6 separate regions of the Homo sapiens genome follow, and regions 1, 2, 4, 5 and 6 are each reported to be linked to region 3. The links are microRNA targets in miRTarBase. Many come from high-throughput screens and were not tested one by one. Region 3 holds a microRNA gene; each other region holds the end of a gene's coding sequence.
What was found. Region 3 holds the annotated microRNA hsa-miR-1302 (UUGGGACAUACUUAUGCUAAA, at 1,941-1,961, opposite strand). A microRNA usually pairs through its seed, bases 2 to 8, with sites in the 3' UTR of a target mRNA and lowers its output. Matches are read on the target gene's strand: a 7mer-m8 pairs with bases 2 to 8, a 7mer-A1 pairs with bases 2 to 7 and ends in A, and an 8mer does both.

Region 1: miRTarBase lists SP140L as a target of hsa-miR-1302. The part of its 3' UTR that is shown has no 7-base or 8-base seed match.
Region 2: the mRNA of SYNC is a reported target of hsa-miR-1302. Seed matches in the 3' UTR shown: 7mer-A1 at 3,083-3,089.
Region 4: the mRNA of STARD8 is a reported target of hsa-miR-1302. Seed matches in the 3' UTR shown: 7mer-m8 at 3,366-3,372 and 7mer-A1 at 3,262-3,268.
Region 5: miRTarBase lists APOLD1 as a target of hsa-miR-1302. Seed matches in the 3' UTR shown: 7mer-m8 at 2,240-2,246.
Region 6: the mRNA of SIGLEC10 is a reported target of hsa-miR-1302. Seed matches in the 3' UTR shown: 8mer at 3,170-3,177.

The regions. Positions count from the first base shown.
Region 1 is chr2:230,402,220-230,407,291 of GRCh38, forward strand. SP140L (SP140 nuclear body protein like) reads left to right here. Exons shown (of 19, transcript NM_138402.6): 19 at 579-1,513. The coding sequence ends at 677. Among named protein-coding and RNA genes, the nearest start is that of SP100, 11 kb to the right of the region's middle.
Region 2 is chr1:32,677,298-32,682,370 of GRCh38, forward strand. SYNC (syncoilin, intermediate filament protein) reads right to left here. Exons shown (of 5, transcript NM_030786.3): 5 at 2,609-4,563. The coding sequence ends at 4,553. RBBP4 (RB binding protein 4, chromatin remodeling factor) reads left to right here. Exons shown (of 12, transcript NM_005610.3): 12 at 2,343-5,073. The coding sequence ends at 2,408. Among named protein-coding and RNA genes, the nearest start is that of SYNC, 23 kb to the right of the region's middle.
Region 3 is chr9:27,104-32,176 of GRCh38, reverse strand. It overlaps MIR1302-9 (microRNA 1302-9), which reads right to left and starts at 2,033; the gene lies at 1,896-2,033. WASHC1 (WASH complex subunit 1) reads left to right here and starts at 2,721. Exons shown (of 11, transcript NM_001378090.1): 1 at 2,721-2,865. MIR1302-9HG (MIR1302-9 host gene) reads right to left here and starts at 2,518. Exons shown (of 3, transcript NR_197460.1): 1 at 2,295-2,518; 2 at 1,732-1,835; 3 at 1,286-1,419.
Region 4 is chrX:68,723,688-68,728,760 of GRCh38, reverse strand. It overlaps STARD8 (StAR related lipid transfer domain containing 8), which reads right to left. Exons shown (of 15, transcript NM_001142503.3): 13 at 4,918-5,073; 14 at 4,640-4,816; 15 at 2,925-4,456. The coding sequence ends at 4,339. Among named protein-coding and RNA genes, the nearest start is that of STARD8, 79 kb to the right of the region's middle.
Region 5 is chr12:12,786,633-12,791,705 of GRCh38, forward strand. APOLD1 (apolipoprotein L domain containing 1) reads left to right here. Exons shown (of 2, transcript NM_030817.3): 2 at 277-4,834. The coding sequence ends at 1,020. Among named protein-coding and RNA genes, the nearest start is that of APOLD1, 3.5 kb to the left of the region's middle. RefSeq lists silencers at 314-413, 444-553.
Region 6 is chr19:51,407,005-51,412,077 of GRCh38, forward strand. SIGLEC10 (sialic acid binding Ig like lectin 10) reads right to left here. Exons shown (of 11, transcript NM_033130.5): 11 at 3,016-4,367. The coding sequence ends at 4,095. Among named protein-coding and RNA genes, the nearest start is that of SIGLEC10-AS1, 6.2 kb to the right of the region's middle. RefSeq lists enhancers at 879-928, 1,946-2,446.

The DNA of each region.
Region 1 (5,072 bases), not on the chromosome of region 3:
AGGAGTAGAAGTGACAGAGAAAGGAACAGATCAGTGATCTTACCTTATACCCTTCCACTATCTGAATTGTTGAAAGAACCTAGATTGCTTTTCTAACCCACTGAAATAAGCAACCAAAGGCAAAAAAGTAATAATCCCAACTGTGGAAATGATTTCACTTTTCTGCCCTGTTAATAAGAAAGGATCATGCTGGTGAGAAACGGAAGTTACTCTTAGCTGCATGAGTTTTCAAGTTTAATCTGGTTAATGTTACTTAGGGTGTTTAAGATAAGAGTCCTACTTAATAATAGTGTATTTCACACTTCAACATTGTTAAGAGAGTAAATATCAAATGTTCTCACCACAAAAAATGATGGCTCTTTGAGATGATGAATATGTTAATTAGTTTGATTTAATTATTCCACATAGCAGTCATAAATCACAACACTGCTTTGTACTCCAAAATACATACCATTATAAATTGTCAACTTACAGTTTTTATTTTTTAAAGACAAGAGTCCTGATCATTCTCAGTTGAAAGGTATCTAATGACACTAATGATAAGGAACATCGTTTTTGTCTTTATTACTTTTTTCCAGTATAAGGATTTTGGCCAAATGGGACTTAGACTGGAGGCTGAATTTGAGAAGGATTTCAAGGAAGTGTTTGCTATTCAGGAAACAAATGGGAACAGTTGACTGGTTTAGTGGATGCTGAAGGCCTTCAGGAAATATGCTACTGGTTGCCACTGACTTCAAACTGAGAGCACTTGGGAAATAGCACATGCAGGGAGAGGCTTTTCTCTGAGCCTCCCTCATCTGCCCAAAAACAAATCCTCAAAAGAAATTTGATCATCATGAATCCCATCCCCAAGAATCTCATCAACCAGGGAAGAGGAACTGAGATCACAGGGAAGGAGATTGGAGGTGATACCAGCACAGACAGACTCTCACCTCTTCTCCTGAGGTCTGCTCCAGACAACATTTATTACTCACAAGACCTTTTTCCTCCGTTTTTTTTTTGAGATGGAGTCTCACACAGTCACCCGGGATTGGAATGCAATGGCGCGATCTCAGCTCACTGCAACCTCTGCCTCCCGGATTCAAGTGATTCTCCTGTCTCAGCCTCCCAAGTAGCTGGGATTACAGTGCCTGCCACCATGCCCAGCTAATTTTTTGCATTTTTAGTAGAGACGGGGTTTCACTATGTTGGCCAGGCTGGTCTCGAACTCCTGACCTCATGAGCCGCCCGCCTTGGCCTCCCAAAGTGCTGGGACGTGACAGGAGTGAGCCACCACACCTGGCCACTCGCAAGACCTTTTATCTGAAAACCAGCCAAGCTTTATTCACGACACACTTCTTCCCTTCACTCTCCCACTTCTGTGGTCAACTCCCTGCAGAACTCCCAAACTGCCGTTCTTTTCGATAGCTCACGATGGTGTATGAGTGTCAATCATCTGACCCTTCTTGGAGTCTCATATTTCGTGGAACTCCTGTGCAAACATATATTATTAAATTTTTTTTCCTCCTGTCAATCTACTTATGTCAATTTAATTCATTCGTAGCTCAGCCAAAGAACCTAGCAGGGTAGAGGGAAGCCATTTTTCCCTCCCCTGCAAAGCGGTTGGCATCCTGGCACCATCTCCTCTTCTGACCAGGTCTTTTCATCCCCAGCTGCTGAGTGGTGGCTGCTGATGCCAGCAGTCCCCAGAGTATTACCCTTCGTTAAATGGAATCAGCTTCACCTGGAAGTGACGCCCCGTGGCCTGAGGCCGGCCCCTTTGCCTCAAAGCAGGACCAAGGGTGTGGTGTGTGGCTACTCTGTGCTCCCAGGTATCAGGCTGGAGCTAGTCTCCAGCTGTGGCCACATCGTGGCTTAGCTTTTGCCCACATGATGAGCTTCCCCCACTCCCTTCTGAGCAAACCCTCACCATCAATCTCTTGCTTAATGGACTTCATCCCAGAATGTGCTTCTGGGGAATGCAACCTAAAGTAATGGCCCCAGGAAGCGAGCTCTGAGGACAGGATTCTGGAGTTGGATCACTGTCTAGCCCAGTGATGCTGGGTGGAATATGGATAGTCCCAGAAGTGCTATCACTGAGCAGTTGCCCAAATTTTCACCTGTAGTAAATTGGATGAGCTGCAGGTCAAGCTATTTTAGTACAGCTATGTACTAAAATAGCTGGTACAATTGTCTGGCATTTAAGAAGTGAGGAAAAGTAACTATAAGAAATATGGGTTTTGGTGGGTATTACTAAGTGCCATTAATGTCTTGAAAAGAGTAAATGACAGGCTTAGATCTATTCATTACCAACCTAAAGAGAAGAGACCCTCATACCTGGAGCTGGAAGGCAGACAGCAAGGAAGGTCTGGTACAGACCTGATTTTATGAATCGCAGAACTTCAGAGAACACTGAATTCTAAGCTCAGGATGGTCTCTTATGCCAAAGTCAAGGCCTTCAAACTCAGCATGGGGCTATCTAGGTAGATGTACATGAGAACTTTGAACTCCAGATGCCCCCTGAACCTACTGGGTTTGCAGAAAAGTCTTTCTGCCCCTTGTTGGAAGAGAGAGCTACCACCCCCACCCAACTCCCGATTTTTCTAGAATGAAGACTGTATAGAGACCGCTCAGGACAATGAAAGTGAACAATCATGGGGAGGGCAGCAAATGAAGAGAGCATTTATCCTCCGAAGGAGCTGTAGGACTGGCCAGCGTGCATCAGCAGGAGCAAGGAGATTGTGTCTGGGAGTGGATCCTGGTCCAGGAAGGGTGAAATGTGAAACCAGATAAGTGACGATTATTGGCAAAGGGGCAAGCTTCTCTACCACAGAGTTTAACTAGCCTGGCTTGGGCCAAAGGTGATGATTCTGATATACTCCTGGGTGGCTCCTAGAGACTAAGTATAAGCCATGGTACACATTAAATCAAGTGGAAGCAGAGATACCAGAACTACTGTGGCAGAGTCTGGAAAAGTGGGTCCCAAGGATAGAGAAGTTGGTGTGCTAGAATGACTCTGCACTCTACAACTGGAGAATCCATCCATCAGGTGACTGAGTTCCTCCAAAGGGGACACTACTAATGTGTCTCAGACACTAACTAAGGTGAGAAGGAATGCACTGTTGAGGGGGCAGCACATCCTTAAGAAGCTCAATGGTGGCTGTCCCCTGCAGGCTGGAATAATGCTAGGGATGTTTTATAGAACTGGATCCCCCAGTAGTGAGTAAAATGATAGAGTTCCAGAATAACAGGGGCCAAGTGGCAGCATTTAACTGTGAGGACAAGATAAAGTAATTTCCGTAAGGGGCATCAACGTTAGAGTGACAACTGGGAGGCCTGACCTGTAGGTGTCCATGAAGATGGCTCTTAGGACATGCTGTTCCTCTAGGCAAGACACATATTGCTTTAGACATATAATCAAAAGAGATTGAAAATAGATGAGCAGAAGGCTGAGGTCAGCTATCTAAAGGTAAAGTCTTAGACCCCTTGCCCAGCTTCCAAACCTCAGCCAGTTCTCAGTGGAATCCAGAACTCACTGATGGAAATGAGGGCAGTTTCTCATAAGGAAGAACCTTGTAAGTGTGCGCATCACTGATTCCCTCAAGTTTTCACGGGAGGGCTCTATGGCCAAATTTTTTGAGTTACTCACATGCCGGGGAAAGGAAAATACACAGATCTTTCAAGGGATGTTGAGTACAATATCACAGTTGATGCTAATCCCTGAGGACTCAAAGCCCTTTCGTAGCCCCTGTTAGAGTAGAGTACGTGGAGGTGAGGTAATGTCCATCTCACAATGGGCCCTCTGGATCCACAGGCCACCCAGCAATCATTTCCCCATTTCCTGAATGTATAATCAGGATATACATTCATACATACATCATAAAATATAGCAATTGGCTGACCTGGTTCCTTAACCTCTGGTTTCCTAACCTATGAAATAACAATGACTGTTTTAGGGAAGGCCAAGCAGAAGCCTCTGAAACTGAAGTTTCATGGTGAAAACAAGTAAGTTAAAAGCAATATCACATTCTTGGGGAATGATAGAGATTAGTGCCACCTACAAAGACATGGAGGAGGCAGGGGTTGTTACCCCAGTTACACCTCCATTTTAATTCAGCAGTCTGCCCTCTGGTATCTCCTGGTGGTTCATGCTGCTAAATGGCTCCTAAAACTTAACCAAGGAGTAGCCCCTATTACAGTTGCTGTGTCAAACGTGGTATCTTTATTATAACGGGTTAGCACAGCCTTAGCAAGTGATATGCAACTATTAATACGGAAATGCCACTTTTAAAGGATCCGGCAGGATGTAGGTTGAGAGGAAATTCACATTCTCAAGGATTGGACAAGAGTATATCTTTACAGTCTTGCTCCAGGGCAAGGTGAATCCTGCTCTGTGTTACAATATAGGCTTTCTGGACACTCTGCAATACATTACATTGGTCAACTGTATTGATGACAGTATGTTCATGAGCCTGATAAGCGAGAAATGTTGACTATTCTGAATGACTTAGTAAGTCATAAACACTGCAGATGGTGGGAGAAAAACGTTACAAAGATACAGAGATATGCCATATAGGTAAGCTTTCAGGGGTTCAATGGTCTGGAACGTGTCAGAGCATCCCCTCCAAAGCTCCAAGCTGTTGCACTTCATACCTCCTGCCACTAAGAAACCCAGAGCTTGGTGGTCCTCTCCAAGTGAGGAGAATCACCGTGGTTGACATTCTGATGAAAGTGATTCTAGGCTTTGTAATGTGGTTGTGTGTTTGGGAGGCAGGGAGTGGGGAGGCAGTGGGTATACCATCTTCATAAATAAAAATGTGCTAATCAATGTTTTTCACTTAACAATATAAGATGGACATTGTCACATCAGTAAATACAGCTCTACATCATCTGTGCCTTACCTTTCATTTATCCTCAAAACTGGATGACAGTTGGCTCTTTGATTATTTTTGGTCTGGTAAGCATAGTAATTTGTACTGAGGGGCAGCACAGACTAGCATTCAGTAGCACAGCCTCTGTAAGTGGAAGCCCAGTTCCTGCACTTCTCCACTTGCTGACGGTGTGTCCTTGGGCAACCTACTCATCCTTCCCCT
Region 2 (5,073 bases), not on the chromosome of region 3:
GGCCAGAGATTGAACTCTATAAAAACTCCTAATTTGATGTGCTTCTGGATTGGTGAACAACTCGACATACTGGGTGGGTAGCATGCCCAGAGACTTGATGGAAACTCTGCAGCCCCTCCCCACCTTGCCGTATGCATCTCTTCCATGTGGTTCCTCAGTTGTATCCTTTATTTAAAAAAAAAAACAAAACAAAAAACAAACAAAAAACAGTAATAGTAAAAAGCTTTCTTGGGTTCTGTGAGTCATTCCATCAAATTATCAGACCTGAGGAGGCAGTAGTGGGAACCCTGAAATTTGTAGTCAAGTGGGATAGAAGTGTGCAGGTAGCCTGGGACCAGGGAATTGCAACTGGCTTCTGAAGTAAGGACAGTCTTCTCCAAAGCTAACTTCAGATAGTGTCAGAATAGGATTGAGTTGTACACCCAGTTGGTGTCCTAAGAAAGGGTACCCCACATTTGGTGTTAGAAGTAACGTCAGAAAGCATCACACAATTGTATGTATTCTTTTCTCTGGGGTCAGATCACAAGCTCTTTGAAGGTAAGACTATCCTGTCCTCTGCAGTACCTATCATAGTGATATGTGCATGGTAGGTGCTAAGAGCAGTAAATTTTGCTCCTGTGAAAGTGGTTCCTGTATTTTAAGATTATGCCGTTGGATACAGGTATTCTGTCAAGCAGTAGAAGTAGAGTTTATTCTATACAAGAACAGTTTTTCTCTTCAATATATAGAGATTCGGAACATATTGTTTTGGAAGTTTTAAGTGTGCAGTTCAGCAGTCTTCAGTGTATTTACAGTTGTGCAACCATCAACCACAGTCAATTTGAGAACATTTTCATCATCTGAAAAAGAAACCCTGTACCCATTAGCCATCATTTCCTATTTTTCTCATAGTCCCCCAGCCCTAGGCAGCCACCAAGCTATGGATTTGCCTGTTTTGGACCCCTGTTTTTTTTAGACGAAGTCTTGCCCCCCAGGCTGGAGTGCAGTGGTGTGATCTTGGCTCACTGCAACCTCCGCCTCCTGGGTTCAAGCGATTCTCCTGCCTTAGCCTCCCAAATAGCTGGGATTACAGGCGCCTGTCACCACGCCTGGCTAATTTTTATATTTTTAGTAGAGACAGCGTTTCACCATGTTGGCCAGGCTGGTCTCGAACTCCTGACCTCAGGTGATACGCCTGCCTTGGCCTCCCAAAATGCTGGGATTACAGGCGTGTGCCACCACACCTGGCCTGGACACCTTATATAAATAAAATCCTAAAGTATGTGACAGCTTTTTTTTTTTTTTTTTTTTTTTTTTTTTTTTTTTTTTTTGGCACACAGTCTTGCTTTGCCACCCAGGCTGGAGTGCAGTGGTGCAATCTTGGCTCACTACAACCACCACCTCCCAGGTTCAATCAATTCTTATGCCTCAGCCTCCCAAGTAGCTGGGACCACAGGGGTGCACCCCCACACATGGCTGATTTTTGTATTTGTAGTAGAGATGCAGTTTCGCCTTGTTGGTCAGGCTAGTCTCAAACTCATGACCTCAAGTGATCTGTCTGCCTCAGCCTCCCAAGTGCTGGGATTACAGGTATGAGCCACCACACCTGGCCTGACTGGCTTTTTTATGCCAAATAATATTCCATCATATGGATTGGATATACCGTGTATCCATTTTAGTAGTTGATGGATATTTGGGTTGTTTTTACTTTTTGGCTATTATTAATAATGTCTGGTTAGGCTGGGCACAATGGCTTACTCCTATAATCCTAGCACTTTGAGAGGCCGAGGTGGGCAGATCACCTGAGATCAGGAGTTCGAGACCAGCCTGGCCAACATGGTGAAACCCCATCTCTATTAAAAATACAAAAATTAGCCAGGCGTAGTGGCATGTGCCTGTAATCCTAGCTACTCTGGAGGCTGAGGCAGGAGAATTGCTTGAACCTGGGAGGCATAGGTTGCAGTGAGCCGAGATGGTGCCACTGCACTCCAGCCTGGGAGACAGAGCAAGGCTCCATCTCAAAAGGAAAGAAAAATAATAATGCCTGGTTAAAGAACTCAAGAATGTTGGCTATCAAGACAAATAGTATCCACACTGCAGTTTTGTGGGAATGTCCTAATCAGGCGTCTGGGGATCAGCTGCTTATTTTTATTGGAACATGATCATGCTAATTAATATTTCATTACCCATTATAGGTTGTCTCCGGATACTTTCATCCAAGAGTTGAATAGTTGTAACACAGATTGTGTGGCCCAAAAGCTATAAAGTATTTACTCTCTGGCTTCCTGGCCTAATCTGTTGTTGAAACCTTGAGTTTTAGAAGAAGTCTTCATGTTTAAATTCTTTTTCTTGTTTTTGGGCAGGCAGAGAACATTTATAATGATGAAGACCCTGAAGGAAGCGTGGATCCAGAAGGACAAGGGTCCTAGATATGTCTTTACTTGTTGTGATTTTAGACTCCCCTTTTTTCTTCTCAACCCTGAGAGTGATTTAACACTGGTTTTGAGACAGACTTTATTCAGCTATCCCTCTATATAATAGGTACCACCGATAATGCTATTAGCCCAAACCGTGGGTGTTTTCTAAATATTAATAGGGGGGCTTGATTCAACAAAGCCACAGACTTAACGTTGAAATTTTCTTCAGGAATTTTCTAGTAACCCAGGTCTAAAGTAGCTACAGAAAGGGGAATATTATGTGTGATTATTTTTCTTCTTATGCTATATCCCCAAGTTTTTCAGACTCATTTAAGTAAAGGCTAGAGTGAGTAAGGAATAGAGCCAAATGAGGTAGGTGTCTGAGCCATGAAGTATAAATACTGAAAGATGTCACTTTTATTCAGGAAATAGGGGGAGATTCAAGTCATATAGATTCCTACTCGAAAATCTTGACACCTGACTTTCCAGGATGCACATTTTCATACGTAGACCAGTTTCCTCTTGGTTTCTTCAGTTAAGTCAAAACAACACGTTCCTCTTTCCCCATATATTCATATATTTTTGCTCGTTAGTGTATTTCTTGAGCTGTTTTCATGTTGTTTATTTCCTGTCTGTGAAATGGTGTTTTTTTTTTTGTTGTTGGTTTTTTTTTTTTTTTTTTTAACTTGGGACCACCAAGTTGTAAAGATGTATGTTTTTACCTGACAGTTATACCACAGGTAGACTGTCAAGTTGAGAAGAGTGAATCAATAACTTGTATTTGTTTTAAAAATTAAATTAATCCTTGATAAGAGTTGCTTTTTTTTTTTAGGAGTTAGTCCTTGACCACTAGTTTGATGCCATCTCCATTTTGGGTGACCTGTTTCACCAGCAGGCCTGTTACTCTCCATGACTAACTGTGTAAGTGCTTAAAATGGAATAAATTGCTTTTCTACATAACCCCATGCTGATGGGTTTTATTTAGTATAAAACATCCATCAAACACCAGTCTCTGGCTTCTAGAAGAGTCCTTCAGATGACAGTTGTTGTCCATGGTCTTTGACTATCAAGAGCAGAATTAAATGTAATAGTCCCAGAGCTGTAGAAAAGAACTTTACTCCTTCCCAGGGAAAGTGAAAGACATAAAACACTGAATCAGAGGTGGCACAGATTAGTCTTTGATAAGGTAACGTTTCTTTGAAGTCTATCTGTAGAGAACTACATGGACTTCCAAGAGTGTCAAAGGCAGTGTGGTAGAGAGAATTTAAGGCAAGATTTAAATTTGGAAAAGGTGCTTGAACCTTTTCTCAGAGGTTTTATTTCCCCAGTATGTTTTTCACTGGGGCCTTTACTTAGGTTAGAAATAATAGGCTTTGAAGGCCTCTATCACCAGATGCAATAACCAGATAAAATTCCTGTTTTTTCCCAATCGCTTAGTTTTTTGTTGTTGTTGTTTTTTAACTGAGTAGATCATTCTGACCCAGAACTACTTTCATGAGGTAAGATCTTTGGGAAAATCTGAATAGCGTTAACCATTAGATTCAAATCTCAAATGGTTTCTTTTCAAGTCTAGTTGTTTTAGAGTATAGTGAGAAATACCTTGACACAATTTTAAGAGTAAACTATATGGGTCAGCATATCCTTGAACAAAAAGTAGACTTTGTAAAAGTATTCATTTAAATTCTAACACTCGTGGCACAAAAGAATGGAAATTGTAAACCCATGTAATGGAAATTGGCTATCTTTTTGACCCCACATGTGCCCCTCAAAAATGTTTTTGGTTTGGGTCAACACAAGGCAAGATACATTCTTTAAAATACTCCCAGATGTGTCCATACATTCATCCTTCACTCAGTGCATATGTGAGGGTTGTTGCTGGAAGACAGGAGGCTCATCTTTCCTTTCCTTGGTGCATTGAGATCAGTATCAACAGCAGATGAAATAGAATCCAGCAAAGAGTTGACATGTTCTGCCTCCGGCCAACTCTAGAATCTTTTTAAGCAGGTCAGCCAGTATTTGCAACTTCCACAGGATGAATTGCTTGCCAAGTTTCTGGCACTCTTGTCTGGTTGGAAGAGTACATCCAAAGGGTACTTAGTGATCCTTTGCTAAGAAGTTTTTTGCTGTTTCCGGGTTACAGATTTGGCCATATATTTCTAAACAGCCCCTGTAAAGTTGAAAGAAAAAGTTTATAACAGTGAACTTCTGAGGTTTAGTTACTGCAGGCTTTGTTGAGAAGAGATTGTTACAGTGTGATTTATGGATGATCAGGGATGACTTTCCCCTAGCAAATATTTGGATGCCTCCTGTTTGTCAAATAGAATGAATGGTGATGGTGATGGGAGGGATAGTTAAACGTTTTCTCTGCTAGGTTAACTTCTTACAGGTATAATTACAATGCCTGAAATTCTGTAGTTTCATTTCTTTGGATTAGTCGTTGTCTTTTCCAGATTGTACACAATCTGATCAACACAAAGGTAGTTAGTAGATCATTAACCTCAATTGCAAGGTTATAATTTCTCAAACATTAAGCATATTATCAGTCATGTGGATTCAAACACAGTATAAGAAAATCCTCAAGGCTGGGTGTGATGGCTTATGCCTGTAATCCCAGCTACTTAGCAGGCTGAGGCAGGAGTATTGTTTGAACCCAGGAGGCAGAGTTGCAGTGAGCCAA
Region 3 (5,073 bases):
TAATGCTGCGGAGGGAAGTGGTTTTCAGGAGAGAGGAGTCTGTTCCCAGAACTGTAGCACAAAAGCTAGAGGCTGAGTAGGAACATCTTAAACTAAGTCCTCAGTCTTATTTCCAGTTTTCTTCCTGTAGATCGGGGCTTAGGACACCCTGTCACATTTTCTTCACTCCTCCACCAGGAATTCCTAAAGTCCATGCTCTTGGATCCTGGCAAATCCAGGAGGCTGGGGGATGTGGCAAGCTTCAGCAAGACTGCCTGGGACCAACCCTGCAGCCTTAATTCCCAGGCCCGCTCAGCCCAGCTGGCCAGCAAAGGCAGGCAGAGCTTCTGTGTCCACACATGAGAATGACCTGCAGCTGTTCTTTGTCCAGGCTGAGGTCCAGGATTCCCATTGCAGCTCCTAGGAAATCTTTAAAATTAGGTCGGGGATGAGCCTGTCAGTAGATTAGGTAGGGAACTTTTATGAAGTTGAGGGTGAACCATCTGGAGGGTGAACTGGCTGGTGTGATTCTAGAACTGGGGGTGGTGCCTAGCAGTGCATTTGTGAGAAGACACAGCCAGGCTTGGTATATGATGTGGTGTGTGTGTATATTCACAGGCATCGTGGAGCATATACACTTTTTTTGTGTGTGTTGAAATAAACCTTACAGATTACAAAGTACTTTTTTTTTTTTTTCTGAGACAGGGTCTCTCTCTGTCGCCCAGCCTGGAGTGCAGTGGTACAATCATAGCTCACTGCAGCCTCGATCTCCCAAGCTCAAGTGATCCTCCCGCCTCAGCCTCCCATGTAGCTGGGACTACAGGTGTGTGACACCATGACTGGCTATTTTATTTTATTTTTGTAGAGATGGAATCTCACAATATTGCCCAGGCTGATCTCAAACTCTTGGGCTCAAGCAGTCCTCTCGCGTCAGCCTACCAAAGTGCTAGGATTACAGGCATGAGCCACCACGCCCAGCCAGATTACAAAATACTTTGACATCTTTTCTCTACAGCCCTCAAAAGGAGGCAGGGCAAGCACAATTAAATCCCATTACAAATGGGGTGACTGAAGCTCCATTCATGGCTTGCCCAGGGTCACACAAAGAATGAATAGCAGATCCCTGAGCCTGTGTGCTTCCCTCTGTGCCAGGCTGCTTTACCCAGGCATGGGTGCACGTTGTGCATGGGACATTTCTCCTTTGTTGTGTCCTGAGTACCTTAAGCCACTCAGATATTGCTCAGGTGGAGTGAGGGGAAAATGTTTTCAGGTTGTATTAGTCAAAACAAAATACCACACACTGGGCGACTTTAAAATCATACATTTATCCCTCACAGTTCTGGAGGCTTGGAAGTCCAAGTTCAAGGTGGCAGCTGGACAGGTTCCTGGTGAGGGCTCTCTTCCTGGTTTGCAGACAGCCACCTTCTCTTCGCATCCTCACTTGGTGGGAAAAGACAGAGGAGAGAAAGAGAGAGAGAGAAAAATGAGATAGAGAGAGAGAGAGAAATGAGATAGAGAGAAATGAGAGAGAGAGAGAGAGAGAGAGAGAGAGGGAGACACAGAGACAATGCTCTCTTTTCTTACCAGATCTATAATGAGGGCCCCACCCCATGACCTCATCTAACCGTAATTACCTACCAAAGGCCCATCTCCACATACCATCACATTAGGGGTTAGGGTTTCAACATAAGCATTTGGAGAGGACATAAACATTCTGTCTACAACATGAGTGGAGATCCATCTCTTCTTTACCTCTGGTAAGGGGACCACACGCTGCAGCCAGCGAGACAGTGGCATGTTCTTGTTACAACTCGATCTAACTCCCCCAGAAGAGGAGGCAGGGAAGGCGGACAAAACTGGGAGAGGGAGAGAGTGTTAGGAAGAGAGTAGGGTGGCCAGAGGCAGCAAATAAAATATAAAATGCTTAATTCTGAATCTCAGATAAACAACCAATAATGTTTTTTAGCATAAGTATGTCCCAAACTAAGCTTGGGACATATTTATGCTACGAAATTATTCGTTGTTTATCTAAAATTCAAACTAGCTGGGCATCCTGTCTTTTAATCTGGCAACCCTAAAAGGCAAGGGCCAAAAATGCCGGAGGCAAGCCAACGGATTCCAGGAGGGACAACTGCTGGACTTTGGACTGATGATGCTCTTTTTATATATTTAACTTTTTAAAAAAGCCTCTTTTCTTTCTTTTTACCAGCTTTTCACTAGCTTTTTAAAAATTGTGGTAAAACATACATAACCTAAAATTCACCGTCTAAACCATTTTTCAGCATACAGTTCAGTGGGATTAAGTAGATTCACACCGTTGTGCCGCCATCACTACCACTCATTTCCAGCACCCTTCCATCACCCCAGCCTGAAACTCTACCCATTGAACACGAGCTGCCCAACTCCGCCTTGCTTCCCCATTCCTGGCGACCACTGCTTCTGTCTCTGTGAATTTTGACTATTCTAGGCACTTCACAAAACTGGACTCATACGATATCTGTAGTTTTGCGTCTGGCTTCTCTATTGAATTCTTAAAGGGGGGTGGGAACTAAGCAGATCACAAGGGAGCTGCCCACAGAGGTAAAGACAAGGTCAGGTAGGCTGAGAGACGCAGGAAAGCGGGTCAAGGCGTAGGGCTGGAGGGCAGGGGCGGGCCCTGGGCGTGGGCTGGGGGTCCTGCCCCGGGGCGCACCCCGGGCGAGGGCTGCCCGGAGGAGCCGAGGTTGGCGGACAGCTTGGCCCTGAGCTTGAGGGGAAGGCAGCGATGGGACAAAGGACGGAGGTCTAGGAAGAGGGTCTGCAGAGCAGAAAGCACGGGTAGGGGCGGCCTGACGCTCGGAAGACAACGGATGGGAGCCGTGTGCACGTCGGGAGCTCGGAGTGAGCGTGAGTTCCGTGCCCAGGCCCGCGACTCGGCCCGACAGGACAGCGCTCCGGGTCGACGGGGTCCTGGAGCCGCGCTCGGGGAGGCGTCTTGGGCTCGCCCCGGAGCTTCCTCCCTGGAGCCGCGCCCTGCACCCGGCCTTGCCCGGCCCTAGCAGGGAAGCCAAGGCTTGTGGGGCGCAGGGACCCGGGCTCTGCGGGGTCCCGGTTCCGCCTCCCCACTCCTGCGTCTTCCCGCCCCTGCCGGGTTCTGGGAAGCCTCGCGCGGCTCTTCCGCAGCTGCTGCCCGCCCGGAGCTCCTGGTCCCTCGTAGGGGACCCCACTTCTCTGACACCGCTTTGGGTTCCCGGGGCCTACAGCGAGGCTTGTAACTCCGGGAGAGACCCTGGAGCGGGGTGTGGGAGAACGGTCTGGAGGAAGGGCTCCGAGCACTTCGAAAGTATAAACCGCGGTCCCAAAGAGGCGTGCTGTGTCTGCATTTTCCTGGGAGTGCACGGTTTACATTCTCGAAAGCAGTGCTGTCGACTAGAAATATTGAGCGATACACATGTACAAGTTTTGTCACTTAAAAAGAATTTGAAAAAACTTCATAGATGCAAAAAAAAAAAAAAACCCACCATTATTAAAGAATACTTAGGTATTTGTGGAATGCATTGAAGAGTTAACAAAATGGATAGGCAGGAAATATCGCAGACCTAGAATGAATTACAGTTACCCACTGTGGAACTGAGGAGCTAGGGTTTCTCATAAAACTCCCTGATAGAAGACGACTTTTGATAAAATTTTTTTTCCGCCAACAAAATCCCCTGTCTTCTCAACTAGTTACTGTCTGTCCACTAAATAAGAGGTGGTCCGTCACTTCTTCAGATGAGCAACTACAGGCTTTTCAAAAGATAATTGCTAATCAACCCCTTTGTGCCTGGGTTTTCTTATTTGTAAAAATAGATACTACTACCTAACTCCAAAGTGTGTGGTGAAGACAAACAATTGGGGTGATGTATACTAAAGTAACGAAAGTGTTGACCACACACTACGGGCTGGTTAGTGTTAGATTCCCTTGTTTTTCCCTCAGTATCAAAAACAGATCTAATTTAGGTTTACATAAAGACAAAGTATGAAGATAAGGTGACTTACAGTTGGTACTACTAACAAAATGTTTGGGCTAATATTTGCATTATTGCATGAAAACAACAAAACATATCAATAAATAACAAAAAGCTTGGAATTCAGACGACAGATCCAAGTCTGGGCTTGATCTCAAGCTAGTGTTTTGATGTTGAAAAAATGTTATTTGGTCTTTCTAACCCCATTTCCTTATGTAAAATAGGGGATGATGATAAATTCACTGATAATAAGAGTTAAATGAGATTCTTGAGGAGTCAGAATGGTTCTAACATGTGTAGGTATTATTAGCAGTCATACTGTAGCATAAGAAAATACCGTCTGCTGAAAGAGGGACAATAAAGATTATCTACATGGTCATCATTTAAAAGCTACCAGATATAGGAAGAAGGGGCCATAAAATGATAACGTTATGATGATTAATTTTGATGCTTAGGTCAGAGTCCATTCTAGGATATCTGCTGCCCAAAAACAGCAGAGACTCATTTCTTTGGAATCACAGGACGCTGAGTGAGAGGAAAGAAAAAGAAAAGAAATATTTAAGTCACATATGTGATTTCTAAAAGTAAAAAGAAACAGATGAAATTAGTGATATATTTTTAAAATCCAGTATATCCCAAATATGGTTATTTTAGCATGTAATCAATATAAAATAATAAGATATTTTACATTCTTTTTTTCTAGCCTTTGAAATTTGGTGCATATTTTACACTTATGGCACATCTCAATTCAGACTATCCACATTTCAAGTGCTCAGTGGCTGCATGTGCCTGGTGGCTACCATATTGGACAGCACAGGTCTAAGGATTTCATTCCTGCCACAAGTCCAAACTCCTAGCTTTAATTTTGAGTGTTTTTAACAAACTGGCCTCTGTTTATCATTCTTTCTTCTAGTACTTCCCCAAGGATGATTGTACCCTCAGCACTCAAGACCGCTTGCGGTTCCCCTACACACTTTTTGTTCAAGCTGTTTCTTTTACCTGGAATGCTGTCTTTGCACCTTCTTCCTGGACCTGGTTCACCCTCGTTGCCTAGGCTGGAGTGCCATGGCGCGATCTTGGCACACTGCAACCTCCACCTTCCCGGTTC
Region 4 (5,073 bases), not on the chromosome of region 3:
GCATTTATTGAAGAAACTGTCTCTTCCCCAGTGTATGTGCTTGGCACCTTTGTCAAAAATGAGTTCACTGTAGGTGTGTGGATTTGTTTCTGCATTCTCTATTCTGTTCCATTGGTGCTGTGGCCCCTTGGGCAACTGCCATGGCAACAATGGCATCTGCTTTCCTCTCCAGCTTGATGCACGTGCAAGTTCAGCTGCCCGGGGCTATTCCACTCTACCAGTTTCTTGAGTGAAGATGGGGACATAATGGGCAGGGGCCAAGCTGCCAGCTTCCTGACCAGTTTATCTGGCCCTTGATGAAGTGGAAAGTGTTGCTCTGATTCCCTCCTTGGCACCTGGTGGGTAGCTAATATTCAGACCCTGCTACCAACTGGCTCACGAGTGATTTTCTCCCCAGAAAGCATTGCATTGGTTGCCAGCCCCAAGCCACTTTCTCAGACATTTTTCCCTATTGACTGCAGCTTCATGCAATGGAGTCCCCGTGCCCGTCTCTGAGTTCTACTGTTTGCCTGCCCTGTTGATGGCCCTGATTGCTGACTCCTCTCCATCACTGGGTGAGGGCCATAAGCTATTGAAGTTCCCTGGATCTCCATAGCCCCAGCCCTATCCCCTGTGTTATCTCCATGCCAGACTGCCCTGGGCTTTTTTTCATCACTGCCCCCCACCCCCCCAGGCCTTGAGCAAGGAACTCGGAAGCTTTGTTACGAATAGATGTAAAGCTCCTGGCTGTCATTGCCATCATCTTTGCCTATACCAGTATGTTCTGCTCCATCCACACCACTGGGGCCCACTTGCATGGTGCCATCCCCCCATGAAGTCTCCATTGCAACATGCTTCTTCATTGTCTTCACTGACAATGGGCAGATGCTGGCTGCTCATCTTTGTCCTGATGGGAGAAGAACCCACCCACTCCTCACTATCTTGGAGCTGGAGATCCCAGATGAGAGGACCAAGTTCTCCCTATGGAGTCTCACTGGCAGGAAAGACATGGGGCAGGCGGGGGGCTGCCATATTTTGATGTCTGCTATGTGCAAGGCACTGTGCAACCTGCAACCACGTTCACAACTATTGGCTCATTTAACCTTGACAACAACCTTACAAGATATAAATGATTCTTACCCTTATTTTCTGAGAGGGAAATCAGAAATGTTAAATGTGCCACTTAAGGTCACACAGCCAGGAAATGATATAGCTAGATTTGAGCCTGGGTCTGACCACCATCTACCCTCAGCCACTCTGGCAACAGGGCACTGGAGACTAGGAAACAATAATCAAAGCTCACAGGCAGATTGTTAGATTTCTATGCAGGATTCCCCTGCAGCCTGGCTTCTTTGAGGCAGTGGGTGAGGGAAAGCACAAGAGTAGACTATGGGCAGCAGGGCTGGGAATTTGAAGGCATGTTCTCTGGCACCAGGGAAATGAAGCCTACTTGGGGTGAGCAGAGGTACAAGACTCAGGGCTAGAAATGGCCAGGGGTGGTGCTTGCTTTGTGGGTGGGAATGAGAGGCCTGGGCAACCTCATCATGAAACTCATTCCTACATCTAGAGGCACAGTAGAGTAGGCAGAGATGAGGGATGGGAGCTCTGCTTCACACAGGATGATGTTAAGGCCCAACAGAAGCTCTCCTACTTGGAGCTACCTCTTCCATAATGCCAGACACTGGGCTACTGGGTCAGGGTAGCAGAGTCCAGAGCTGCAAGGTTGGGGGAACTCTCTGGCCCTTCCAAGAGCCTCCCTCCTCTTTATCCATCTCCTAGCAACCATCATCTGAGTGCTGAGTCCCATCCTCTGTACCCTACCACCAACCTCCTTCCAAAAGAAGGTGGGCAGTGCTTGGGCCAGAAAGCCCCAATGCCTTCCTTAAGAACTACTGGCCAGAAAATCACACTGGTGTCCCTTAAGCCCAGCACCACCAGAGTGATCTCCCAGCCCATACTCACACACAAGGCACCTCCATTTAGTTTTCCCAAAGGCAAGGGGCTGACTGGGTCCTCTGCTCTACCTCACTCACTTCCAGGGCTAGCCAAGACCCCTAGGTGACAGCAGTGAAGAAAGGCCAAGGCATGTAGGGACAACTGAACCCAAGAGAGAATGGAAGGAGGTGATAGAGCAGCGGGACTGGACAGGCACCTCACTGTTCAGGCCGGGTCGGAGTGCAGACTTGGGTGGTGCAACCTGAACACTTACTGAGACAGGCTTGTGGAGAGGTATGACTGGCCTCGTTTGACCCATGAGGAGGTTGAGGTACCCAGAGAGCAGGGCTTCCCTGCCCAGGCTACTGACAGCACTTCAGGGATGCAAACGTCCAAAGCCTGGACTTTCTCTCTAGCTGCTCTTCGGAGCCTGGGAATTTTATGGCCATATAACATGATAGAGGAAAGCCCCTTCCTTCGGGGAAGTCAAGATGAGAGGGTCTCTCTAGCCCCCTGGGCTTTGCTGGTCACTGGAGCCAGACCAGAGGCTGCCTTAAGGCACTCCGACCTCTTAGGTTGGCTTACAGGTGGCACAGGGCCCCCTAAGCCTCCTGGGGCTGGGACTTCACTCTTCATTCAAGCTGTTTAGAAGGGGAAGGAATGGCCGCTTAGCCAGGCTCACCTCTCCCTAGGATGCCTGAGGTCATGCTTGTGGCCAGGTCATGAGATGGGGTTTGCAGCTTCTGCCCAAGTTCCGGCTAACTTTCCACCCCTTCTCTGCCCCACCCCCCCACCACCATGTCTGGCTGCAAATCCCTCTCCAAAGAGAAGAGCTGAGGCCCTCCCCATTCCTCTTGTGGACTCACCCAAGTCCTGCTGCCGGTAAGCTAGGACTCAGCAGAGGGTGGGGTGAATGCTTAATGCTCTGAGCCCTAACACTGAAGCCTCAGTCACAACCCCAGTCCCCAGTCCCTAGCCCATTGTCAGCAAAGACAGCCACACAGTTAAAGTGCATCTCTGGTAATGCTTTATTGATTTGAGGGATCCTGCTGCACCTGGCTCCCTACCTCTCCATTCTCATCTGAAGTGCCCCTCAGGCCTTCCAGACACTTGCCCCCACCAGAGATTATAATACACTCATGAGAATTGATATATGTGTGTGTCTGTGCAAATGCGTGTGTGTATATATATGTATGTGTATATATATACACACATATATATGTGTGTGTATCTCTATAAACACATATACACACACACACACACACACATATATATATATATATATATATATTAGCTGTACAGTATTTACAGGTACAAATAAAATAGGCTTGAAAATTACAGTGGTGGTTGGGACCCATCTCATTTCAGTTTACTCAGCAGATAGAAAAATAAAGCACCAGTGGCCTTTGAATGGCATTTGAATTTCCATGTGAGCAAAGATGGCTGGCCAGTGGGACAGAACAGGTTTGGCTTAAGCTCCAGCTGGCTAAGATAGGCCCTTCCATCTGGCTGGCCCAGGGGCCAGGTCTCTGCTTGAGAAAGGGGCTGTTATGTTAGCCCACTACCATAAGCAAAAGGGATGATGACATAGACCCTTGTCTCTTAACCACACTCTGCTTTTGCTTGGCCTGGGCAGTGTCAGTGCGTGGCCAAAGGCTACACAGGACCCCATGGGGTGGTCGATAAAGTGTGAAACCCAAGTCAGGGAATACTGGTTTCACTGGCATCTCGAGACTTGAGAAAGGAAGGTACTCCACTCTCACATCCCTATCTATGCCAAATCGTCATGTCACATATTAGGGGCCCGTCAGTGCCCACTCTTAACTCAGCCTCATAAAATTCAGCATCGTATTTACACAAATGAAACAGCTCGTGGTGACTGGGGCTGCCCTGCGCTCCACCCCTGTGCCCATTCACTCCAGTCCAATTCCTCTGAAAAAGACACTTCAGAGCCAGCGTTGGCCCCAAAGGCAGGACCAGAACCTCCTGTCCAACCTCAAAAGCATCCTTGCAGCAAACAAGACGGCTTGCCCTCTCAGTCTGGCAGAGAGCTGGGATCACACATTGCTGTCGACCTCTTTGCCCCTGCAGGCGGGGAGCTGTGGAGGCTTCATGCCAAGTGGCGGCCTCACAAGCAGGTGGCTGGTGGCAGCAGTCTTGCTACTCATGCGATTCTCTTCTCTTTTCGGGAGAGTAGAATACAGGGTTGGGGGTGAAGGGGGAGTGGAGTTGCCTAAATTCTCTTTTTCTCCCCTCTATGTGCAGAGGAGCTTTAGGAAAGGGGACAGGACAGGCAGCTGGAGCCACCTGGGCCTGGCTCTGCTCCTGACAGCGGCACCCAGGGGGCTGCCCTGCTCTTATTCCCCCTCGCTCCCTTGGTGCCCAGGGGGCCTGGGTGGTGCCACCCTGGGACCAGCCCAAGGCTCACAGCTTTGTCTCAGGGCCCGCTGCCTGCAGGGTGGGGAAGGAGTCCCGGATCTTTGCCACTTCCATGGCACACAGGTGTCCAAAGACTTTGTTGTACCAGTCAGGAGAACGGCCCCTAGGGAAGCAGAAGAAACCAGGCATGAGCAATGGATTTTTCCCCAGAGCCCTCACCAGGGAGAAGGAAGAAAGGACTTGTCCCCAGCCCCAGGGATCAATAGCATGGGGCAGAAAGTAGGGGCAGAGGCAGGGGAGGGGGTCAAGGCCAAGGGGGTCGAGCAGGCTGTCCCAGGCCTGATACCTGAGGTCAGCCCGGCAGATGTGTGTGAGCCGAGAGCGGCCCAAGCCGCAAGGCTCCATGAGGTACTGGGATGTGAGCATGAGGGCTCGCACACCCGACTCTGGCACAGGTTGTTCCGGATCCAGGGACTGGGAGACAAGCAGGCAACCCCCACGAGGCAGGTCAGAGCGCCACATCCTATTGGAGAAGGGACACGTAGGCTCAGATTCCTAGTGCTGGTTTCCACCCCACTTCTCCGGCCCCCCAAGCACAGAAGGGTAGCAGCTGCAGCCCCTCACCGAAGCACCACAAAGTCGCGGCAGGGATGGGGTGCCATGCTGTCGGTGACATAGTGGTACAGCTCCACACCCGGCATCAGGGCTTCCAGCACCTGGGCCCGCAGCAGATCCTCATCCCAGAGGGCCCGCTCCCGGAGAACACGATGCAGCACCACA
Region 5 (5,073 bases), not on the chromosome of region 3:
TCGTTAACGTTCCCTGGGAGAGAAGCAGAAGATAGCATTATTCCTATTTCCATATGCAGAGATAAGGTCCTGAGAACTTGTGTGGCTCCCCCCGGATTCCAGAACAGGTCTTTGAGAACTCGTCTCATGATCCACTGGAAACAGACCCGTTCCCCTAGCGTGGCAGTGGCTGCTCCGCTGAACTCGTGCCAAGTTCCCGCTGGCGTCCGGGCAGCAGGGCGGGAGCGGCGGCTGGCACGGAGACTCCAGGCTGACCGCGTGTCTATGTCCCCGCAGGGAATGGAGAGGCCGGCGGCCCGGGAGCCGCATGGGCCCGACGCGCTGCGGCGCTTCCAGGGACTGCTGCTGGACCGCCGAGGCCGGCTGCACGGCCAGGTGCTGCGCCTGCGCGAGGTGGCCCGGCGCCTGGAGCGCCTGCGCAGGCGCTCCCTCGTAGCCAACGTGGCCGGCAGCTCGCTGAGCGCAACGGGCGCCCTCGCCGCCATCGTGGGGCTCTCGCTCAGCCCGGTCACCCTGGGGACCTCGCTGCTGGTGTCGGCCGTGGGGCTGGGGGTGGCCACAGCCGGAGGGGCCGTCACCATCACGTCCGATCTCTCGCTGATCTTCTGCAACTCCCGGGAGCTGCGGAGGGTGCAGGAGATCGCGGCCACCTGCCAGGACCAGATGCGAGAGATCCTGAGCTGCCTCGAGTTTTTCTGCCGCTGGCAGGGCTGCGGGGACCGCCAGCTGCTGCAGTGCGGGAGGAACGCCTCCATCGCCCTGTACAATTCTGTCTACTTCATCGTCTTCTTTGGCTCACGTGGCTTCCTCATCCCCAGGCGGGCGGAGGGGGACACCAAGGTTAGCCAGGCCGTGCTGAAGGCCAAGATTCAGAAACTGGCCGAGAGCCTGGAGTCCTGCACCGGGGCTCTGGACGAACTCAGCGAGCAGCTGGAGTCTCGGGTTCAGCTCTGCACCAAGTCCAGTCGTGGCCACGACCTCAAGATCTCTGCTGACCAGCGTGCAGGGCTGTTTTTCTGAGAACATCCTTTCCCCCTAATGACCGAGGCCAGCAAATCATCCTCATGGGATGCTCCAGAATTTGTAGCTCCCTTAGGAAAACACCAAGCTGGGTTAGGAGCCGAAGGCAAAGGATGAGAAAAACTGTTTTTGAAGTGGGCAGGTCCCCAAAGCCCTTCTTTTCCCATCACTGTGACATCTGCCTGGGCTTGAGTGCTACGGACTTTTCAGTCTTCCTAGTGGAAAAATGTGACCCAAAAACTCTTTTTCCTTTATCAAAAACTTTCTGTCTAAACACAGCTGGGCAGGCACTCCTGTTTTAAAGTTATTTCGGGGTCCCTGACCCTGCCCTGGTGGCTTGGCCTGAGACTGGAGAGAGTGCCATCCTCTGGGTCCTCTCCAAGTCCTACTAGTCTTTGAAGTCCTCAAAATGTGCGTGAGGAAGGCGTTTGCCTCTATTCCAGAATTTCTGATACAAAGAACTCCAGAATCCAGAGCAAATCAGCCCTTCTCTGAACGTTGTAGGATGGTTCAGAACCCAGAGAGGACCCTGGTGCTGATATCTCCTCCTCTTCCCTTTCCCCTCAGCTTACTTACTCCCAGATGCGGCCTGGGTATGAAGTAGGCCTTTCCTGAGTGGCTCCCAATCCAGTCCTCCAAGTACTCAGAGGGGAAGCCCGTGAAGCCGTCATCTAAGTCCTGCTCCCTCACATGAAGCTGAGGGCCAGATAGATGGAGCGACTGCCAACTTCATTTCCCGACATCATTGTGTTCAGAAGAGAGTGATGGGTTTTGAGTTAGACAGTCCTGGGCTTGAGACAGGCTTTGTCACTACTGTGTGAGTGTAGCCACCTAATCTCTCTGAGACTGTGTAAAACAAAGATGATAAAATCTCACCCTGTTGTGAGATATTAAATGAGCCAAAGTGCCTAGCATGATGGTGCTGGCTCATATAGTGTAGTCCCTGGAATGGCAAATTAACATCACCCAGGAACTTGTTAGAAAGGCAAATTCTTGGACACAACCCTCCTGATTTATGGAATCAGAAACTCTGGCTGTGGGGCCCAGCAACCTGAGTTTAAACAATTTCTCTGGGTGGTTCTGCGGCACACTAAGGTTTGAAAATCACTGCAACAAATGCTAACTTCTAATCCCCTTGATGAGCTTTCACGAAGTCTCACGGCTTCTCTAGGGACTCCATGGTCTTCAGAGTCGTTCACAGATGACCAAGGACAGACTGTGTCCCAGAAGCCAAAATGAGAGAGAGAGAGAGAGAGCACGCGTACGTGCACCCTGGGGCAGTGTCTCACCGTATGAACAAGGGATGTAACACTAAAAGCCCATTAGGGGGCAGTGTTTCCCGCCTGTTGTAGAAACTGGTACAGAAAGGAATATGAAGTTCCTGAAACTGACCTTTGTCTATTATTACCTTCTCTGAAAAGTGCCAGTCCATGTATTTTTTATTTATTTTAAGTTTGTAATTTAATTTTTAATTATTGTTTAGTGTTTGCATTTAATTTTATTTAATCACCACATTTAGAAAATAATAAGAGCAAGTTTCTAAATGGGAGACTGCTGAGGCTCTTTGCAAGAGATGAGATTAAGTTTGAGTTTCTAAGGCAGGGCATGAGCTGGAAATAGCATTGCTTTCCTTGATTGTCTCTCTCCTTCAGGGAGATTCTTTTTCTCTAGTGTTTTAAGTGATCCTTTGAAGTAAGTGTGGAGAGTCTTGAATGGCAAGACCAGGAGCTGAGTTTAAGCTTGTAATGGAAGCTTGCATTGTGGGATATATAACTGAGGAAGCATATTTATCCTGAAGGTATTTTGCCAGAAGGTATCACTTGACCTGGAAAAGGAATCTATTTAGTTCAGGAAAGATAAAAAGTTTAGAGGTATGTGAAGGAAGCACTTAGAACTTGCAAGCCTGATGTCCTATCAAGTTATGTCTTCTGGGTGACAGACAAAATCGCTTGTCTTATGGTGGTGATGTGTTGCATTTTCACTTTGGGGTCTGTAAGAAACTGTCAGTGAAAATATGTACAATTCCTTCAATTTCCATTCTTAACAACTGTAATGTTGAAAAATAAGTTGAAAAGTCTTTGGGACCATACATGCAAAAACGGTGCCTCTGTTACTTAATTATTTAATATTCTATAAATGTACCCAATCTGTCCGCACCCTTCCCAGTGATGGGGCAGTATGTCTGAGGAAGTATAATTTCAGTACTGGGGTCGGGGAGAGGAGGTGATGTTTCTACATTTTTATTTTTTCTATAAATTGCAATTGGTCTGTATGCTGGTTTATTTTGAAATTTATATTGGTTTCTTTTCAAGCTGGTGTCATCTCCTAGACTGTTTCACCCAGATGCTAGCATTTTTTTTTTTTTTTTGAGACAGAGTCTCACTCTGTCACCTAGGCTGGAGTTGCAGTGGTTTGATCTCGGCTCACTGCAACCTCCGACTCCTGGGTTCAAGCAATTCTTCTGCCTCAGCCTCCTGAGTAGCTGGGATTACAGATGTGCACCAGCACACCCGGCTAATTTTTTGTATTTTTAGTAGAGACAGGGTTTCGCCATGTTGGCCAGGCTGGTCTTGAACTCCTGGCCTTATGTGATCCGCCCACCTTGGCTTCCCAAAGTGCTGGGATTACAGGCATGAGCCACCTCGCCTGGCCAGATGCTAGCATTTTAGATCAAACAATTCATTTTAGATGAATTGTTTTGTTTCACAATCATTTTAAATCATTTTAGAATGTACTTCACATTATTAGTTGTGTTATGGCATAAAGGTACAACCATTCCCTAACTCCATCTTTTATTAATGCTTAAGTTTAAATTATATTCTTCCAATGCCTAAGCTATTCCCTAGAATTAAACTGGGCACTTTTGGAAGCAGCAACAGTAACAGCAGCAGCAAACTTTTCCTCTCATATTTTGGGTGTATCAAAAGTTCTAGACTTTTGAAGTTATGATTTCAGTGGCCCACTTTATTTCTAAGGAAGAGTGTCTACTTTGGAACGATACTTTGCACATAGTAGGAACTCAAGAAATACATTTGAATAATTATAATTAACTGTTTAGCTATCTTAATGAGAATTTGTTGACAACAAAAGATCATCCATCGCCTTATGTGTGAGTAAGATTGGAGCCTCTATCAAGATTTAGTCAAGTTCAGTTAGATTGATTCTAGAAACAAATATTTATTTCTTTCTTTTACGGGGATGTGAATAAGGCTTTTCCTTAAGGCCTTCATTCTTTAAACAAACAGGTTGAAATGGTATGTTGTAAAAGAGAAGACGGGAGAGAGGTATTTAGATGATAAGTGTACTTCACAAAAATGCCAAAGTTTGAAAAATAGGTATGTTTGTTCTAAATGTTTAAGTGCTTCTCTGTTAGGTTCTGGGGCTTGCAATCATTTGAATTGTTCTGTTTCACAATAAAGGAGATTCACTGGGTTCTGCATTTTCAGGATTCAATAGAACTGCTCCATTAAAAAAATAATCCTTAGCAAGCATTCGAATCCTAACTGCTTTGATGCACTTGCCCTCGGGCACCTGTCATTTCCAATATGGTAGGTGTCAAAGTCAAAAGTATTTACTGGGAGAAAAAAGAGAGGAGTGGTTGTAGAAGTCTCCCTAAATCAGACATGTCAAGCAATCAGCCAACGTGGTGTATTTCTCATTCAATATTTTAGTGTGAATTGAGACACTGAGATAAAGACATCGTGCAGAGATAAATGGGGATACAGTTAAATGTAGCAACTCTTGAGTTCATTTTTTCCCACTGTAGCAAAATTAATGCTTTCTCTTTATTGAAATAAATTGCTCATTCCTCAAATTTTTTTATCTTTCTGTAATTAATTTCCTAGTTCTATGTTTCCTTGTGTATGAATTAGTAACTTTGAAAAAGGGCAGATGTTTAATCATTTTCACTTAGAATATTCAGATCAAACTATATGAATCATTTTTTTTTAATAATCAATGCATACACAGGAATTCCCTTTTGCCTAGAAATCAGACTTCCAGCAGTCTCAAAACCTTTGAACATAATTACAACCTGGGAAGGAATTGAAAGGA
Region 6 (5,073 bases), not on the chromosome of region 3:
AAACATATAACTATTTTATATTCATACTTCCTGCAGTTAATGTCCCAGTTGACTGGTTAAAAAGAATATTTGGGGGCCAGGCGCAGTGGCTCATGCCTGTAATCCCAGCACTTTGGGAGGCCGAGGCGGGCGGATAACAAGGTCAGGAGATCAAGACCATCCTGGCTAACACAGTGAGACCCCGTCTCTACTAAAAATACAAAAAATTAGCTGGGCGCGGTGGCAGGCACCTGTAATCCCAGCTACTCGGGAGGCTGAGGCAGGAGAATGGCATGAACCCGGGAGGCGGAGCTTGCAGTGAGCCAAGATTGCACCACTGCACTCCAGCCTGGGCGACAGCGAGACTGTCTCAAAAAAAAAAAAAAAAAAAGAAAAAGAATATTTGGCAATACGGAAAGTTCCCCTTGGGTTTTCTGACTCCAAGCCTGGTGTTTTTGTTTGTTTGTTTGTTTGTTTTCATTTGCACAACATTGCCTTTCCCCAAGAGTACTGGATAACAATGCCCTCCCTCCAAGTCCCAAGTCACTATTGCAGAAGTCAGGACCTTAACACACACATTTCAAAGTTACTGACACCTAGTCAAACCTGGTGCCTTAGCAATGCAATCTTGTAATTTCCCAGGTCAAACAGATCTTCAAGGGTTGCTCTCATGGCAGAATTTGGTGGTAGAAGGAAGGAAGCAGAGTCTCAGTCTTTGTGCAGCTTGTAGGGAGTTCCCTTTTTCTCAAGCCCTTGCAGCATCCTTCCCACTCTAAGCTTAAAGGAGACTGTGTAACCAGCAGTGCTCACCCATCCTGGGCCTGAGTTTGAATCCCAGCTCTGGAGTTCAGCTGTGTGACATGCAAGACCTTGTCCCTCTCTGAAGTCCTTCTGTAAAATGAGGTGGCTGCATTGGGTGATCCCATTCCACACCATGAGTCTATAGTCCTATCATCCTGGGTATACCGACGTCTGGTGGCCAACTTTGGTCCTTGCAGCTAATTCAGGTTTTTTCTTTGTTTTTGAGACATAGTCTCGCTGTGTCACCCAGGCTAGAGTGCAGTGACGCGATCTCAGCTCACTGCAGCCTCTGCCTCCCAGGTTCAAGCGATTCTCATGCCTCAGGATCCTGAATAGCTGAGGAATACAGGCACCTGCCACCACACCTGGCTAATTTTTGTATTTTTAGTAGAGACAGGCTCTCGCTCTGTTGCTCAGACTGGTCTCGAACTCCTGAGCTCAAGTGATCCGCCTGCCTCGGCCTCACAAAGTGCTGGATTACAGGCGTGAGCCACCGTGTCCAGCTCAGTTTTTAATTTTTTATTTTTCAGTATCTGGAGTGTTTAGCACAGCCAGGAAACAAAACACACCAGAGAGGGCCACCTTGCCATGTCACCAACGATGCAATAACTACCGAAGAAAGGCCCCTTGGGTGGCTATGGAGGAGCAGAGGTCAGCAGAGGAGATGGCCAGCAAAGTGCTCTCCTTTGCTCTATTTCTTTTCTTTTGAGACGGAGTCCCACTCTATTGCCCAGGCTGGAATGCAGTGGCATGATCTCGGCTTCTGCAACCTCCATCTCCCAGGTTCAAGCAATTCTCCTGCCTCAGCCTCCCGAGGAGCTGGGATTACAGGTGCCCGCCACCACACCTGGCTAATTTTTGTATTTTTTTAGGTGAGACGGGGTTTCACCATGTTGGCCAGGCTGGTCTTGAACTCCTGACATCAGGTGATCCGCCCACCTCAGCCTCCCAAAGTGTTGGGATTACAGGCGTGAGCCACTGTGTGATTCTTAGCATGTTGTAAGTTTGTCATTGTTCCATTTCCAAAGCATTCCAACCTCCATCCCCGCATGCGTTTGCACTTCTTTAGATTTGTGGGTCTGAGAGCGCATTAGCACCCCATCCACATGCAGTCTCCTGCCCTTCCAATCCTCACCCTGAAAACCTTCCTGTAGTCACAGACCTAGTCATTTTTCCCACGGCTACTCTTGAACTCTTTATGGACCTCTGCGCTCGCTTCCTCTTCTGTGAAAACAAATGAGTTTATGTAGATTAAGATCTAGCCAACTTCTGTAAAGGATCAGATGGTAAATATTTTAGGCTTTGCAGGCTAGTGACTCAACTCTGCATGAAAATAACTGCAATGTGTAAAGGAATGAGCATGGTTGGGCACCACACTGAAATTTGAATTTCATCTCCTTCCCAGGGGCCCCAGAAGAGTCTTCTTCTTCGGACTTTTTCCCCAAGCATTTAAATGTAAAAACATTTCTAGCTTGCAGGTGGTATGAAAATAGGCAGCAGGCTGGAGGTGACTGAGGAGCCTATCTAGTCTTTTTTTTTTTTTTAAACAGAGTCTCGCTCTGTTGCACAGGCTGGAGTGCAGTGGCGCCATCTCAGCTCACTGCAACCTCGGCCTCCTGGGTTCAAGCAAATCTGCCTCAGCCTCCCGAGTAGCTGGGACTACAGTTGCGCACCACCACGCCCAGCTAATTTTTGTATTTTTAGTAGAGACGGGGTTTTACCATGTTGGCCAGGCTGGTCTCAAACTCCTGGCCTCAAGCGATCCATCAGCCTCAGCCTCCCAAAGTGCTGGGATTACAGGCGTGAGCCACTGCGCCTGGCTGTATCTAGTCATCTTTAAAGACCCTCCCATCTCTGAGAACCCATGAAACTGCGCAGTCCTCTGGACTGGAGCTGGGGTGTGTCAAAGGCAAATCTTTGCCTGCCTTCTCAGAACACCATATTCAGAGAAGGCCATTCAGGACAGATTTGTCAGGCTGTTCCGAATGCCCAGGTCTGGGATGAGATGGCCTATCCATGGAGGATTTTTATTTTTTCGAGACAGGGTCTCACTCTGTTGCTCAGGCTGGAGTGCAGTGGTGTGATCTTGGCTCACCACAGCCTCTGCTTCCTGGGTTCAAGTGATCCTCCTGCGTCTGCCTCCCAAGTAGCTGTGTTACAAGAAAGGGGTCCTGATCTAGACCCCCCAAGAGAGGGTTCTTGGATCTCACACAAGAAATAATTCAAGACGAGGCGGTAAGGTGAAAGCAAGTTTATTAAGAAAGTAAAGGAACAAAAGAATGGCTACTCCATAGACAAGAGCAGCGCCTAGAGCTGCTGGTTGCCCACTTTTATGGTTATTTCTTGCTTATTTGCTAAACAAGGGGTGGATTATTCATTCCTCCCCCTTTTGGGACATATCGGGTAACTTCCTGATGTTGCCATGGCATTTGTAAACTGTCATGGTGCTGTCAGGAGTGTAGCAGTGAGGACGACCAGAGGTCACTCTCGTGGCCAACTTGGTTTTGGTGGGATTTGGTTGGCTTCTTTACTGCAATCTGTTTTATCAGCAAAGTCTTTATGACCTGTATCTTGTACGGACCTCCTGTCTCATCCTGTGACTTAGAATGCCTCCACTGTCTGAGAATGCAGCCCAGTAGGTCTCAGCCTCATTTTATTCAGCTCCTATTCCAGATGGAGTTGCTCTGGTTTAAATGTCTGACAGCTGGGACTACAGGCACACACCACCAAGCCCAGCTATGTTTTGTATTTTTTGTAGAGATGGGGTTTCACCATGTTGCCCAGGCTGGTCTCGAACTCCTGGGCTCAAGCAATCCACCCACCTTAGCCTCCCAAAGTGCTGGGATTACAGACACCCAACCCATTTGGAGGATTTTTTTTTTGAGATGGAGTCTCGCTTTGTTGCCCAGGCTGGCGTGCAATGGTGTGATCTTGGCTCACTGCAACCTCCGTCTCCCAGGTTCAAGTGATTCTCCTGCCTCAGCTTCCCAAGTAGGTAGGATTACAGGCGCCTGCCACCATGCCCAGCTAATTTTTGTATTTTTAGTAGAGACGGGGTTTCACCAAGTTGGCCAGGCTGGTCTCGAACTCCCGACCTCAGGCGATCTGCCCACCTCAACCTCCCAAAGTGCTGGGATTACAGGCGTGAGCCACTGTGCCCTGGCCAGATGTTTTTTTAAAAGAGAGAGAAAGAGAGAGAGAGAGAGAAAGAGAGAGAGAGAGGGAGAGAAGGAAACTTTGCACTCTGTTATCTTCAACCTCTTACTCTACCTTCCTCCCTAGCCGAAGTCCCAGTCCTAAAGCCTAAGAGACCCTCATTGGAACTTGACTTCTGCATAATCCGCCTGGGTGCCCTTGGGCATCCGGGCCTCAGGCCTGGGTCTGACGCCTGGGAAGTTGAGCGTGGCATAATGGAGCTCCTCTTGGCTCTCCTGGGATTCTGGGGCTTGAGTGGATGATTTGGGTTCTGGGAAACTGGGCAACTGATACTGCTTTTTCTGGTTCTTCTTTGATTCTGGGGAGGGAGCACCTGGTGGAAGAGGGGTCCGAGGACTGTTTGGTGTGGCTTTCTGATTCCGCTTCTGAGCCTGAGGGAAGAACCACCATCCTTCATTCATTCATTCAGCAAATATTTGAGCACTTACCACGCGTCGGGCACTGATTTACAGCACAGAGTGAAACTAAGTCCCTGCCCTTGCCTTGCTGAGCTTGCATTCCATCTTGGAAGGAGGAACAGACAATAATTAGCAAAAGTACAATGACTGGTAAGTGACAAATGCCATCAAGAAATTTGAGCACCTTTAGAAGGCAGCGAAAGGGAGGGTGGGATGACTGTTTAATAGGTCATCCAGGGAATTTCAAGACCGGCCTGGCCAACATAGCGAAACCCTGTCTCTACCACAAATACAAAAATTAGCCGGGCGTGGTGACACATGCCTGTGGTCCCAGCTACTCAGGAGGCTGAGGCAGGAAAATCACTTGAACCTGAGAGGTGGAGGTTGTAGTGCGCTGAGACTGCGCCACTGCACTCCAGCCCGGACAACAGAGACAAAATCTGTTTCAAAAAAATAATTGATAGCCGGGTACGGTGGTTCACACCTGTAATCCCAGCACTTTGGGAGGCTGAGGCGGGTGGATCACCTGAGGTCAGGAGTTTGAGACCAGCCTGATCAACATGGTGAAACCCCGTCTCTACTAAAAATACAAAAATTAGGGGGGCATGGTGGTGGATGCCTGTAATCCCAGCTACTCAGGAGGCTGAGGCAGATGAATCGCTTGAACCAGGAGGTGGAG